4 linked regions of the Homo sapiens genome follow. The protein of the gene in region 1 interacts with the protein of each later gene in a pairwise test. Each region holds a gene or a part of one and is shown on either strand. Other genes may lie near its edges. The genes, in order: MLKL, RAD18, THOC3 and PSMB1.

The links.
Region 2: the proteins of MLKL (region 1) and RAD18 interact in a two-hybrid assay, tested with the Homo sapiens proteins (one large-scale study listed by BioGRID and IntAct).
Region 3: the proteins of MLKL (region 1) and THOC3 interact in a two-hybrid assay, tested with the Homo sapiens proteins (one large-scale study listed by BioGRID and IntAct).
Region 4: the proteins of MLKL (region 1) and PSMB1 interact in binary tests that used the Homo sapiens proteins (3 or more experiments, as listed by UniProt).

Annotation. Positions count from the first base shown.
Region 1 is NC_000016.10:74,676,788-74,680,493, forward strand, and holds part of MLKL (mixed lineage kinase domain-like protein), read right to left. Parts: intron 2,194-3,706; coding exon 2,112-2,193; intron 1-2,111. UniProt on the Homo sapiens protein: Pseudokinase that plays a key role in TNF-induced necroptosis, a programmed cell death process. Does not have protein kinase activity.
Region 2 is NC_000003.12:8,897,436-8,901,141, reverse strand, and holds part of RAD18 (E3 ubiquitin-protein ligase RAD18), read left to right. Parts: intron 1-2,094; coding exon 2,095-2,248; intron 2,249-3,706. UniProt on the Homo sapiens protein: E3 ubiquitin-protein ligase involved in postreplication repair of UV-damaged DNA. Postreplication repair functions in gap-filling of a daughter strand on replication of damaged DNA.
Region 3 is NC_000005.10:175,959,031-175,962,173, reverse strand, and holds the end of THOC3 (THO complex subunit 3), read left to right. Parts: intron 1-739; coding exon 740-901; intron 902-1,022; coding exon 1,023-1,123; coding exon of another isoform or gene 1,124-1,215; exon of another isoform or gene 1,216-1,984; intron 1,985-2,041; coding exon 2,042-2,205; 3' UTR 2,206-2,643; downstream 2,644-3,143. UniProt on the Homo sapiens protein: Component of the THO subcomplex of the TREX complex which is thought to couple mRNA transcription, processing and nuclear export, and which specifically associates with spliced mRNA and not with unspliced pre-mRNA.
Region 4 is NC_000006.12:170,546,602-170,550,307, forward strand, and holds part of PSMB1 (proteasome subunit beta type-1), read right to left. Parts: intron 2,513-3,706; coding exon 2,405-2,512; intron 1-2,404. UniProt on the Homo sapiens protein: Non-catalytic component of the 20S core proteasome complex involved in the proteolytic degradation of most intracellular proteins. This complex plays numerous essential roles within the cell by associating with different regulatory particles.

The sequences.
Region 1 (3,706 bases):
ATTTGGGAATTGTGGACACTGAGTTCACAAAATCTTTTCCTCTTCTGTATGAAAATCTGACTTCCAGTGAACTTCTTAGCTCTGTTCCCCTGGAAATCTGATACAGGTAGACTGTCACCTATGGCTCTTAGTAACATTGCTGATGATGAAAATAAAAATGACTGCTGATTGTTAGATTGCTTCTGGGCAGGATCAAGGGGGTAACAGGACTACACAGTAAACAGCTGATGGGAATGCTTTGTAGCAAATTTTTCTTATTTATTTATTTATTTATTTATTTTTTGAGACGGAGTCTCACTCTGTCGCCCAGGTTGGAGAGCAGTGGTGCAATCTCAGCTCACTGCAAGTTCTGCCTCCTGGGTTCATGCCATTCTCCTGCCTCAGCCTCCGGAGTAGCTGGGACTACAGGCACCTGCCACCACGCCTGGCCAATTTTTTGTATTGTTTAGTAGAGACAGGGTTTCACTGTGTTAGCCAGGATGGTCTCGATCTCCTAACCTCATGATCCACCTGCCTTGGCCTCCCAAAGTGCTGGGATTACAGGTGTGAGCCACCGCGCCCAGCCTCTTTTTTATTTTTTGAGACAGGGTCTCATTCTGTTGCCCAGGCTAGGGTATACAGTGGCGTAAACATAGCTCCCTGCAGCCTTGACCTCCTGGGCTCTAGGCATCCTCCTCCTGCCTCACTCTCCTGAGTAGCTGGAATTACAGGTGTGCACCACCATGACTGGCTGATTTTTAAATTTTTTGAAGAGGGGGAGGTCTCACTGTGTTGCCAAGGCTGGTCTTGAACTCTTGGGCTCAAAGTGATCCTCCTGCCTTCCCTTCCAAAGTGCGGGGATTACAGGCATAAGCCACCATGCCTGGCCATGTAGCAGCTCTTTTCTTTTCTTTTTTCTTTTTTTTTGGAGATGGAGTTTTGCTGTTGTTGCCCGGGCTGGAGTTCAACCACGCGATCTCGGCTCACTGCAAACCTCTGCCTCCCGGGTTCAAGTGATTCTCCTGCCTCAGCCTCCTTAGGAGCTGGGACTAGAGGCGTGCGCCACCACACCCGGCTAATTTTTTGTATTTTTAGTAGAGACAGTGTTTCACTATGTTGGCCAGGCTAGTCTTGAACTCCTGACCTCAGGTGATCCACCCGCCTTAGCCTCCCTAAGTGTTGGGATTACAGGCGTGAGCCACCATACCCAGATGTGGCAGCTCTTAAAACAGCAACTCACATGTCACTTGCAGAAACACTGGAAGGCATGCCTGCAGAGTTGTTACCAGAGATGCTGACTCCTGCAGGTCATGGGCTTCTAAGCCTGGATGACCCACACCCACCTAATGGGAGCCTCTTTCTCCAGCACCTGTGGCTCTGACAAAGAGAGTATCTCCTGGATGACTGCGAGGACTCACCCTGGAGGGAAAGGTTTGGCGCTGCTGACATCCTTCTAAGTAACTGAATGACAAGTGTGGCCTAGACCTGTCCTGTGAGTCTGAGTCCTTAAACCTAACAAGATCCCCCATTGTATGTTGTAGGGACATAGAAGTGGTGTCCAGGCATCTAAGGGGAAATGACTTGTAGCCCATCCCTGCTAAATGGGCAGTGAGGGAAGGCAGTCATCAGAACAGGCGGCATAGATGGAGACTGTTGTGTGGTGGGCACACAGAAAGTTGAAGTTAGTTCTGAAACTAAAAAACTAAAATTGAACTCAGTTCTAAAACCAAGGCAAGGCCGGGCATGGTGGCTCATGCCTGTAATCCCAGCACTTTGGGAGGCCCAGGTGGGCGGATCACTTGAGGCCAGGAGTTCAAAACCAGCTGGCCAACATGGTGAAACCCTGTCTCTACTAAAAATGCAAAAATTAGTCAGGAGTGGTGGTGCATGGCTGTAATCCCAGCTACTTGGGAGGCTGAGGCAGGAGAATCGCTTGAACCTGGGAAGCAGAGGTTGCAGCGGGGCGATCTCGCTCACTGCCCTCCAGCTTGGGTGACAGAAAGAGACTCTGTCTCTAAATAAATAAATAAATAAACTAAGACAAGAATCAAGCCTTTCTGAGACACTCGTGCCCCTCTCATAGCACCAGTCATGCAGGTTTGACCCAAAGCGCCCCCGCAAGGCACACTCACCTTCACTTGGTAGCCTTGAGTTACCAGGAAGTTTGAGCTTCTGATTTTTCCGTGGAGTTCAGGTGCTTCTGAATGGTGTAGCCTGACACAGCCAAAGGCGGGGAGCATAAGTACCTTTGCCCAAACTTTCTTTGGGGGACTGACAATCATAACTGGGCTGATGAGGCTGGACAGTACCATGGGTGCCTGTCCACAGTTACACAGGAAAAACTGGGATGTAGAGGCAAGGTTTGAGAATCACAAGCCGTGAGTATAGAACAGAGATGAGATTCATAGCACAAGGGGGCATGACAGCCCTTATGAAGTGCATGCAATCGGGCATCAGGGGTGCCTTTAGGTAGAGAAGGACAACGTTGCCTCTGTGTTGCTTTGCCTGGGAAGTGCTGGGCAGATCCGAGAGCTCAGAGGCATGGCTGGGTGGCTGGACCTTGCTGGGACCCTTCAGGTCAAAGCAGAATGTGAAGCTGGGGTCCCGCTGACTTCCAGACAAGGGCTTTGGTTTCACAAAGCCCCTGCGTCCCAGGTTGGGTTGCACTCATGGTGTCTGCCTGAGCTCAGATTCTCCCAGAAGCAGATCATGAGCCATGATTTGGGCACGAGGGATTTGTATCAAGAAGGTGCTCCCTTGACCAGGCATGGTGGCTTGCGCTTATAATCCCCACACTTTGGGAGACCAAGGTGGATGGATCACTTGAGGTCAGGAGTTTGAGACCAGCTTCGCCAACATGGTGAAACATCATCTCTACTATTAATAAAAATACAAAAAAATAGCTGGGCGTGGTGGCATGTGCCTGTAATTCCAGCTATTCAGGATGCTAAAGCATGAGAATCACTTGCACCCAGGAGGTGGAGTTTGCAGTGAGCCGAGATCACGCCACTATACTCCAGCCTGGGCAGCAAAATGAGGCTCTGTCTCAAAAAAAAAATAACTCCAAAAGTCCCCCAAACAAACAAAAAGAAGGTGCTCCCAGGAGAAATGGTTGAGGGAGTACAGGAAGTAGGATGGCGAAGGAGAAGAAATCAAGCAAGAGGTTGATTTCAGGTGAAATCCCAGGCTCAGGTGGTCTCGCGGAGACCTGTGGGCACAATTACACCTCAGAGTGTGTCCCACAGGAAGCAAAGGAACTGGACTTTTATACTTACACCAGTCAGTGGTTATGGACTGTGTTGGGGAGGGCAGGGACAGATGGATATAAAACTCGTGGGCACTTTCAGCTGTCTATAAGGGTGAAAGGGCTCCAGTGCCCACAGGCAATCCTCTGAAGATTGCAGCTGTGAACTTTCAGCAGCAAAGCATGCCGAGAGGGGGATGGGTAAATAGAGCTGGTAAAAAGGATCAGAGGTCATTTGGAGGGGATATTAACAGTGTCCCCTACAACATCCAAAAATACTTCTCCTTAAACTCACTAGTTTAGGGAGTTGAGAAGAAACAAACTTAATTTCAAATTAATAGCTAAGACAGTGTTTCCAAAAGTGTGGGATAAGGTGGTATGCAAGATTATATAAAGGGAAAATTACTCTCCTTTCAGTTTGCTCCAGTCTTTCTGATTACATCAAGAAGAAAGTCTGCGTTTGGTATTTTTTTTTTGTTTTTT
Region 2 (3,706 bases), on another chromosome or scaffold:
GATGTGAAGTGGTATGTCATTGTGGTTTTGATTTGCATTTCCCTAGTGACTAATAAACAATTTGTGCATAAAGTGCTGCCTCAGTATGTAACTCATGGTCATTGAACAACTCGAACTTGTTCATGCAGTTGTTAAAGGATATTTCTAGAAACTAGTTTAGCACTTGAGAAAATCTGACTGAATATTTCCCATTAAGAAAAGTTTTTTTAATTAGTTGAACCTCTCTTGAATATCATTGATGGCTTGTATGTATTTATGAACATCAATATTACTCTTTCCGGGGTTCAGAGGTGATTGCTGCTTTTAGATTGCTGTGCATGAATGAGATGTCTGAGAGGGTAAGGTATGTGAGAGAGATGAAGACAGACACAGACTGACTGAAAAGATGGATTTTGTATAGCATCATACAACCAATATAATTGTTGCTCTTTAGAACATTGAAGTGCTCATGTAAGTGAACAAGTTGCATATTCTCTCAAGTGAAAACTTAGCCTGTTTTTGTTGTGTGTCTCTGGGGAGCTCTGATGTCTGAGCCTCACTCTTCGGGGCTCTATTTTGGAGTCCTGCATTCTGAGATCTAAGGGCAAGTAGGAAGGATAACTTATTTTTTATGCCCACAGATTATTGAATGCTGTTTGTTCCCAAGAGGGAATATATCTTCTAGAAGTGTATGTAAGAGTGGAAGAAGTAAGAAAAGAATACAGACAATGTGCAAAAATAAAAGATTGTTTTAAGTTGAATTCCTGTTCCCTGGTTTGCTAGCTTGCTTGCATGCACCTCACTAGTTGAGTAATATAGTCCCTGGGTGAACCGAGTTGACTGGGGGATTGGCTCCTCTTAATGTGATTCTGGTATCTGTTTACAAGAGGAGTTCCTAGAGGTTCAGGATGGTCATCCTGGCTAAATTCTTTTTCCCTTTTCCAGATATACATTAGAGGGTGCTGTTTTGTTTTGCTAATGATAGTTTATTGACAGCCAGATGACATTAGGAGCATATTTTTAGGAATTACACTCTTGTGAAGTATGCTGTTCTCTCAGTGTAACAAAAACTTAGAACTATTTCTGAAAAAAATTTAACTGTATGAACTTGGCAAGGTTTTTTGAAGAATTTGTTATGTTCTTTCCCCATAAATTCTCTCTGTATAATCAAACCTTGACAATTGTATTTTTAGTGTGCTTTGTTGAAGACCACTTGCCTCTACAAGTGCTTGATGAGTGATGTGTGAAAGCTCTGTTTCTCTGTGAGGAAACACATGAAAGGAGCTCTGTAGTATTATTAGCACATGTAGCTTGCATGTGAGGTACCTCCTCAGTTCCTGAAAGTTAAGGACAGCACAGATGAAAATCCCAGCAGCGTTCATGATGAGTGGGAGAATCCTGGGCACTAAAGAATCTTTCACAGATATTCTTCCACTCATATTTGTAGAAAATTGGCCATACCCATATGCCACATTTTTGTAAACACTGCATCCTTCCAGCTTTTTGGGGTCTTTATTTTTATCTGCAATAAGAGACCTTGAAATCTGAGAATATGACAAAGAATGCACGGAAATGTGATGTGTATTGGATCAAATGGAAATATTCCTTATGTCTGTTTAGTTGTCCTTTTCCATAGAGAATAATTAGATTCTAGTTAACCTAGAAAAATGTTTAGAAAAATGTCCAGATAGATTCACTATCATATAATAGTAGCAAATATTGTGGTTGTCTTATTAGTTGAATCTGTAGTCTTTTTTTGGTTATACTTCTTATGTTGGTTTGTCAGTGTTCTCTGATCTATGAAATATGCAAGAATTCCTTAGTGATATGTTAATAGAGGCCTCATTAGAATTACAAGATTCTTCCTGCTTCTGGTTTTAAAATAAATTTTATTTTTAAACTAATTAATCTTGGAAAAACATGGGCTGGACAGTATAATTAGATAGCACCATTGTAGTGTTAATTCTTGCTCTCTGGCTGTCACTAGAGTTCTGGAATCTATGTGACATATACTTCAACTTTACTAAGTGCACATGGCAGTATTAAGTGTTGCAGAAGTAATAGGCATACAGAAGTTGTAGATTTTAAGGTACTCTTAAATTTATTTTTTCCTAGGACAGGAAGATAATATGACCTCAGTAACAAACCACTTTTCTCAATCAAAGCTGGACTCCCCAGAGGAATTGGAACCTGACAGAGAAGAGGATTCTTCTAGCTGTATTGATATTCAAGAAGTTCTTTCTTCATCAGAATCAGATTCATGCAATAGGTAAGAAACATGCAGTAGTTGATTATTTTAAATATCTACTTCATATGCACATGTAGATAGATAGGCAGAAATAATTAGAATGTAGCTTTGAGGCATGGCATGGTGTGTCACTCTTACATTTCAGTCCCCTTTTACTGCTGGGTCTTCTTCACAGTGATAACAAGGCAGGATTTGGGAAGGTAGTGCAGGGATCACAGGGTGAGTTTGGTCTCTACTCTATAGCCTTTATGTAGATACTTTTCCTACCGTTGGAAAAGAAAGCATGATAGACAGTGAAATTTTTGTCAAGACGATGAGTAAAGGAGATAAAAACAACTATATTGGAAAACAGAAATGATCAGAAAGACATGGCGCATAGGAGGGTTAAGAAATGAAAAATTTAACTGAGTAAATAGAATAGATGGGGAAACTTTAAAAATGAGAAGTTTGGTAATGAGTCATTTTGAAAAGATATTTTAAAAAATATATAGGGTTTATTTTACACACACACACACACACACACACACACACACGCATGCACACACACATACCAGTTTTTGTTCCGGTCTTTCACTTAATGTTATGTCATAAATGTTACGTTTCTATAGGTTGGCACAAAAGTAATTGAAACCACAGTTACTTTTGCACCAACATAATAGCTTATGTTTATAATTGTTATTTTTTAATGAGTACAGTATTCTGTTATGTCTCTGCGCTATAATTTACCAGACCCTTCAGTTTCTGTTAGAGCTCTACATTTTTCCCAGTGTTCTACTTATGTACCTGATGCTATGGTAAAGCTCTTCCTTTGTTTCTATTGAATACTTTTTTTTTCATTTTTTTGAGACGGAGTCTCACTCTGTTGCCCAGCCTGGAGTGCGGTGGTGCGATTTCGGCTCACTGCAACCTCCACCTCCCAGGTTCAAGCATTTCTCCTACCTCAGCTTCCCAAGTGGCTGGGATTACAGGCCTGTGCCACCACGCCTGGCTAATTTTTTTTTTTGTACATTTAGTAGAGACAGGGTTTCACCGTGTTGGCCAGGCTGGTCTCAAACTCCTGACCTCAAGTGATCCACCCACCTCGGCCTCCCAAAGTGCTGGAATTACAGGCATGAGCCACCGTACCTGGCCACTTATCTTTATTATTCTGATATGTAGGCATTGCCCTCTGAATGAATTGTACTGATTTAAAATGCCTACCTATCAGAATCATTGCTTATTGCCAGTGTTATTTAATGACGCTGAAACTTAGTCAAGAGAGACACCCATTTGATTCTGGTAACTGATACCATAGAAATCAGGAAAAGATTCAAACTTAGAAGGGACTACCAGTCAAGACCAAATTCCTTTAGTAGCATCATACTATGTGGTATTTATTTATCTGGTCCAACTGGGCGTTCTCAGGGTGGGGTTAATGAGTATATTACATAGATTTGGCCTTGCTGTGCTGAAGACATGCCAGTCTTGTCACCAGCTTCA
Region 3 (3,143 bases), on another chromosome or scaffold:
ACCACCAATGTGATGACTTGAAACAAAAAATGTTTTTGGTTTTTGCATATACTCTTTCCATTCTTCCCCCATTAAAAAAATAGTACTATATGTTGTAAGCATGTGCAGATGTTACATATTATACCCTCTCTTTAAACCATGTATAGTTTTTGCAAGAAACTGTATATTCAGTGTTGAGCACCAGTCCTTATAAGTCTCTAGTCATTTTTTTAATTGAAGCTCATTCTCTAGTTAAGATTCCTCGGGAAGCGTTCATGGGAACATTATTCCTGGAGTTTTTATTACAACTTATTTACGTACTTCTAAAACTTACAGATTTTATAAAACGTTATTGTGCTTATTGTTTGTATCATTATATTTGAAATTCAGTTTTGCTGGATGTAAAAATCCTTGGCTCGTTTTCTCGCTTGTGTATCTTTCTTAAATATGGTACTCCATTTTCTTTTGGCATTAAGTGTTGCTGTCAGAAAGCCCAATAATCTAATTTTCTTTTTCTTTAAAGTCCACTAGTTTTGCTAGTCTCTGTCTCGATGTTGGTAACTTTGGTTCTGTAGTCTCAGGTATGTGTTGTGCTTTTTAAATAATGTAGTTCAAAATCTTTTTTTATTTCAGGAATGTTATCTTGAATGACAGTTCTTGGTGGTGGTCTATTATCTTTGCTTTTCTTCTTCATCATCTCCTATTATTGTTTCAGCACCACAGTCCTCTTCTGCAGTTTGATCGCTGTCTTTTTTCTCAGCTACCCAGAACTGAAGCCTGTGCAGTCCATCAACGCCCATCCTTCCAACTGCATCTGTATCAAGTTTGACCCCATGGGGAAGTACTTTGCCACAGGAAGTGCAGATGCTTTGGTCAGCCTCTGGGATGTGGATGAGTTAGTGTGTGTTCGGTGCTTTTCCAGGTAAGTGACTCTATCAGCACTTCCCTTGTTGGGTACATTAATTTTATTTCATCTTGAGTGACATTGTTCCCTCCTCTTACTTGGTAATTCTCTTGTCTCTTCTGTCCACTCTGTATCATAGGCTGGATTGGCCTGTAAGAACCCTCAGTTTCAGCCATGATGGGAAAATGCTGGCGTCAGCATCGGAAGATCATTTTATTGACATTGCTGAAGTGGAGACAGGTAACTTCATGAGAATCTACCGTCTTTCACCTTTGGCAGTCAGGACTTCTCTTGTGATCTCATCTCTGCATGTGACTACTTCACCAGCATGATCATGAATGAATTTGTCTCCTTTAGACAAGTATGTTTCTGTTTTGACTGTCACTGCCAGGTGGTGAGGAAGCAAAGAGTTAAGAAATAAACAGGCAGGTCTGAGGAAAGTGATTTAGAAAAATATTTTGATTTATTTAAACTTTAAACTACAGAGTAGAAGGAAGAAAAAAGCACCACTTGGGGTCCCACTCTCTAAATACCACCTGTTTTAAATGTTGTGATATATTTCTCTTTATCTTTTGCCTGTATATGAACTTGAAAAAATATTATTTAAAATTTGAGGAATTATAAAGTTTTTGCTTTAAAAACAACAGAAGCTGGAAATAGAAAAATGGGAGGAGAGTATTCATTTTGCAAAAGAATTTCCTCAGATTTGTTTTTTAATGTTGCTTTATTGTTTTTGGAAATCTTTGACACTCTTCGTAAAAAGATTAAAACTGTATAGAAAACTTCGAAGAGGAAAGTAAAGAACTTGAAATTCCACTATGTAAAGAATGCATGCCCCTGTTAGTCACGTTGTGGTGAACATTGTCCAGCATCCAGCCATGCAGATCCTTCATGTAACTGCATGTCCCTGTGACGCGGAGACACTTTCCTGCTCAGTGACCTGCTCTTGAGTTAACCCACCTGTGCTCAGAACCGGCTCTGTCCTCCACTGGCTTGTGGGCTCTCTGTGCCTGGGGGTTCTCTGTAAAATGAGGTAATAGTTGTATCTATCTCATGGGATTAGTAGGTGGATTAAACCAGTTAATACTGGTAAGTACTTAATGAATGTGTCCTTCGTTTTGAACGTATTGATTGGTTTCTCTCTATTGTTTTCTGTAGGGGACAAACTATGGGAGGTACAGTGTGAGTCTCCGACCTTCACAGTGGCGTGGCACCCCAAAAGGCCTCTGCTGGCATTTGCCTGTGATGACAAAGACGGCAAATATGACAGCAGCCGGGAAGCCGGAACTGTGAAGCTGTTTGGGCTTCCTAATGATTCTTGAGAGGAGGTTGTAGGGAGAGGAGGCCCCGGCAGAGGTCTTCCTTCATGTGGTTAGTTTGGTCTGTTCTCTCGGAGTTGGTGGGCACCCTAAATATTTGTAAGTTGGTATAAATTGTAAACGTCTCTGGTCAGGCTGCGCATTTCATTCTTTTGCTTTGTCTGTGTATTAGCTCTTTCCATTCTTTGCCCCCAGCATGAGTTAACTCGCGTGGACTCTGCAGTGCGAGTAGTGACCCCACCATACCTTGTCCTCTGGACCTCCTGTCTTCTCTGCTTCTGGGTGCATGGTAGACTTTGTGGCATTTGATACAACTTGGACAATACCTAGTTTGGAGGGAGGGGAATGGAAGGGCATGGAAGTTTTTTTAAATAATTAAAAATATATATATATAATTTTGAGAATTGAGCATTTAATAAACTGACTTTTGTTATTATGGAACTTCTAAGACTTTTAAAATTATTATGTCCTTGAGTTGCAGTTTTGTATTTTTTTTTTTTTTAATTTCAGAAAGAGAATTTAAATGTTATAATTCTGTCATTTAATGTCCCAACCAAGAAGCCTCTGAAATATAGGGACAAAGCTAATTGAATGACCAAACTAAAATTTTGGCTCTGAGCTTCCTGGTGGCAAAGTGAAGAGGGGAGTAAGTCATTTAGCTTTCTTATTGAAAAGAAAAACACTTATTGGTTCCTCATGGAAAGCAAAGCTTTATTAGTTCTTCCCTCTAAAAAAAAGGGCTTATGTTTGGAGGGTTGTTACCTAAGAGCAGTGGTTTTTCATTATATTGTAATTTTGTTTGGTGTTAAAGCAAATATTGAGGCATATAGAAATAGTGTTGGTAGAAAATTTTGGAAAAAGATAAGCAAAAAGAAAAATTACATTCCTAGCACCAAGAGGTAACTGCTATTAGAATTTTGATGTATATCCTTCCAGAAGTT
Region 4 (3,706 bases), on another chromosome or scaffold:
ATTACAGGCACCCGCCACCACACCCAGCTGATTTTTGTATTTTTAGTACAGATGGGGTTTCACCATGTTGGCCAGGCTGGTCTCAAACTCCTGACCTCAGGTAATCCACCTGCCTTGGCCTCCAAAGTGCTGGGATTACAGGTGTGAACCACTGCACCCAGCCTCGTGAAGGTAGATTTAAACAACACAATCCAAGGGCCACACAGAAAAATTTCATAAATTTGACTACATAAAATTCTACAGGGAAATTTAAGAATAGCTTTTTAAAACCCTAAGAAAATATATTAGTAGCATCTACCCCCAAAGTCTAATTTTAATTCTATAAAAATTCTTACAAATAAGGAAAGCAATAACATAAAGGAAAGATGGGTAACTTCTATGAACAGACAAGTCACAGAAAAAAGAGACATTAAGTCACCATAAACATAAGAGCCTCTATGTTACTCAGAAATCCAAATCTCAAAAAGAGACTATTTCAACCAATTATACTGGCTAAAAATGCCTAACTAACTAAATGCTGGTGAGGTTGTGGAAACAGTATAAACTGATTAACCTGTTAGATGGGCAATTTGGTGGTATTTATTAAAAATTTAAATACACACCACTCTCACCAATTCTATTGCTAGAAATCCATCTTGTTAATATACTTATCCAAGTATGCAAAGGGATGCTCTAGACTCACCAGTGAGTACTCATTTAAATAGCACCCCAAAACAAAACAAAACCTAAATGTCCATCTGTATGGAGAGGATTAAAATTTGGTATAGACATACAAATTCAACCGTGTATTTCAAAAATTAATTCCTAGATCTTGATATGAATCTATAAAGAAACCTAAACAATATTTTGCAGAGGCCACACAATTCCTCTTGGAAACTTACGAATGACTCGCACAAACCATACCTGTCCTACTAGGAGAGCAGCTGACACCTCTAGGGTCATCACTAACATCACCTGATCTATGCCTACCATCAACCTCACTGCACTAAGGTGAAGACGTCCAATCCCCTATAAGGCTTTACTGCCTTTACTGACAAGATTGGTTGACAATACCAACAGGGAAAGACAGAAATCTTAGAACTTCAAGATGCTTTTCCCAAATATCCAGGTGCATCAAAGGAATGGGAGTTTTCATGCAAAGAATACAGTCTGAAACAGGTTTGGAAGAGGCAAGCTTAGTTCTAGGTCAGACCCACAGGACGTGGGATGAGGGATATATACAGGCATTCGTTAATGCTGCATTGTTCTTATTCTCTATCTCTATATCTGACGTGTTTCACAAAAAAAAAAAAAAAAAGTGCTCACTTCACCAGCAAACGTAACTAAAGCAATATTTAAAAGATGAGTAAAAGCTAGTACAAGGATGGTATCCATAAAGTTGTTTTAAAATCTTATTTCTAATATTTACTACTTTCAAGTTGTACAAGTGTCGTCCTTGAGGAGAAAAAAAGGTAACACAAGAGCACCATAAACAGAAAGCAGAAAGGGGGTATCAAAAGATGCAAGTGGAGAGAAACAGAACTGGGAAGACGAAAACAAACTTCATTGCTTTTTAAGATGTGGGCCATCCCTAGGAGCAGGAAAGACAACGTATCTTTTCTTCTGTACCTACTTCCTACAATACAAGGAGGGTCCATCCAAAGGACCTAAACCTCGTAAGTCCCATTCCTATTACAATTCAAGTTTAATTAACCCAGGAATTCATGACCATTTATAAGCATTTCCAAAACTGGTAAATACAGACCACTGCCAATCTGCAGTATGTATTCAGTATTTATGCAGGCTTTTTGTTTTTTTAAGTTTTGGCTTTATTTTCATGTTTTAGGAAAAACATAGCTAGCCTATTAAAACTGAGCTGTGGACATAATTGCTTAGGATATTTCTAAAACGAATGTTTCAGGTAAAAAAAAAAAGTGTGGGGAGGCAGATTTAAAAAAAATATCATTTAATGGATTAATGGTGCTGTGGTTTGAATATTCCCTTCAAAACTCATGTTGAAATTTAATTGCCATTGTGATGGTACTGGGAGTTGGGACCAGGTGTTTAGGTCCTAGGGCTCAGCTTTCATGAATGGACATTATCACAGCAGTGGGTTCGCTTGCTCTTCTTTCTTTCTCTGGCCTTCCACCATGTTAAGACACAGCAGGAAATTTTTCATGGTAAAATGCTGGGGTGAACACATTTAGGTTACCGAAAGCACTTTTGGTACCCTGAATACAGCAAATATTATTAAGACTGCACATTAAATTATTAGGAAACATTAACTTAGAAAATGGTTTTCTAATAAAAATGCTCCCAACAGCAACTTAAAAACTCATGAAACAAATCATTTAGAAGTAGAAACTCTCACAACATCAAATCATTACAAAGGCATTGTGAAATGTCTTTAGAAATATTTACTTACAATTTGTAACATTTGGGGCTATCCCGCGTATGAATTGAAAACCCTTCACTCAATCGAGTATCAGAAGCAACAATTGCAAAATCTTCTCCAGCAATTGCCAGTATAGTACTGAGGAAAAAAGAAAAAAATTAATTCTCCAGGGTGGTAATCCTATCCCTACAAATAGAAGAATGCTCCATAGTACATAATGGGATAAAATACTCTAGATGTCAACAAAAACATGATTCAAATGGGAAGAGGAAAGATGAGCGGGAAGAGAATGAACGCCTGGCTACGAGTTGTCTGGGAAAAAAAAATTATTAATAAGCCTAAATCAGGGCAAAGTCTCCTTGGCAGGAGTTAACAGAAAAGCCAATGAATTATCATCACCAACACATTAAATACTTACTCGCGCAAGGTACTACTAATACAGAACAACTAAATACCACATCTGTGCCCTTGAGGATCAGGTATAGACAGTGGTACTACAACGCAAGCTCTATGAGTTTAGAGAAGATGAGATTTTTTTTTCTTGCTTCATTTCTTTATATCCAAGTCCTTATATAACGCCTATATAATGCTTATTTCTTTATACCCAATCCCTTATATAATGACAAATAGATGGACAAACAGTAAATTTTTCCCTCTGTGGCTGTACAATTTGACAGCTTATCAAAGAGACTTACAGTAGAATTCCAAAAGCAGACCGCCTGGGTTCTAATTCTGGCTTTCCCGTTTCGCAGATATGAGACTGTGGGTAAGTTACTTCTCAAAGCGTCAATTTCATCATATATACAACAGAGATCACTGCAGTTGCTACCTCATTAGGGTGTTCAAAGGATCAAATATGTAAGCCCTTATAGCAGTCCCTGACATGTAACTGGTCCTCTAGTAAGTGTTAGCTATAAGTGCTATGGCACTGGAGTATGACTAAGCACCTGGGCTCTGGAATTACATGAGACAGAGACCCACTCTTGCTACTTACTAGGTATGTGATCTTGGACAAATCCTCCAAATGCAAGTTGATGATAACAGTACCTGTGTCACAAGGTGTGTATATATATTTGGGTGTGTATATTTTAATGTACAAGGCTTGACTGATAACTATAACCACTGCTTCAATGCAATAGTGGAAATTAAAGGCATGGTGCCTCACAGACGTAAGCACTCAGGAAACTTAAGCCACTATTTTTACTGAGGAGGGATTTGTGCTAAAGCTCTCAAGAAGAAAAGGATGGCATTCCAGGTAATATAAACAGCAAGCAATGGCAAACAGGTAATTATTCAAATAGTACATACATTCAAGCAACTCATTCAGGCAGC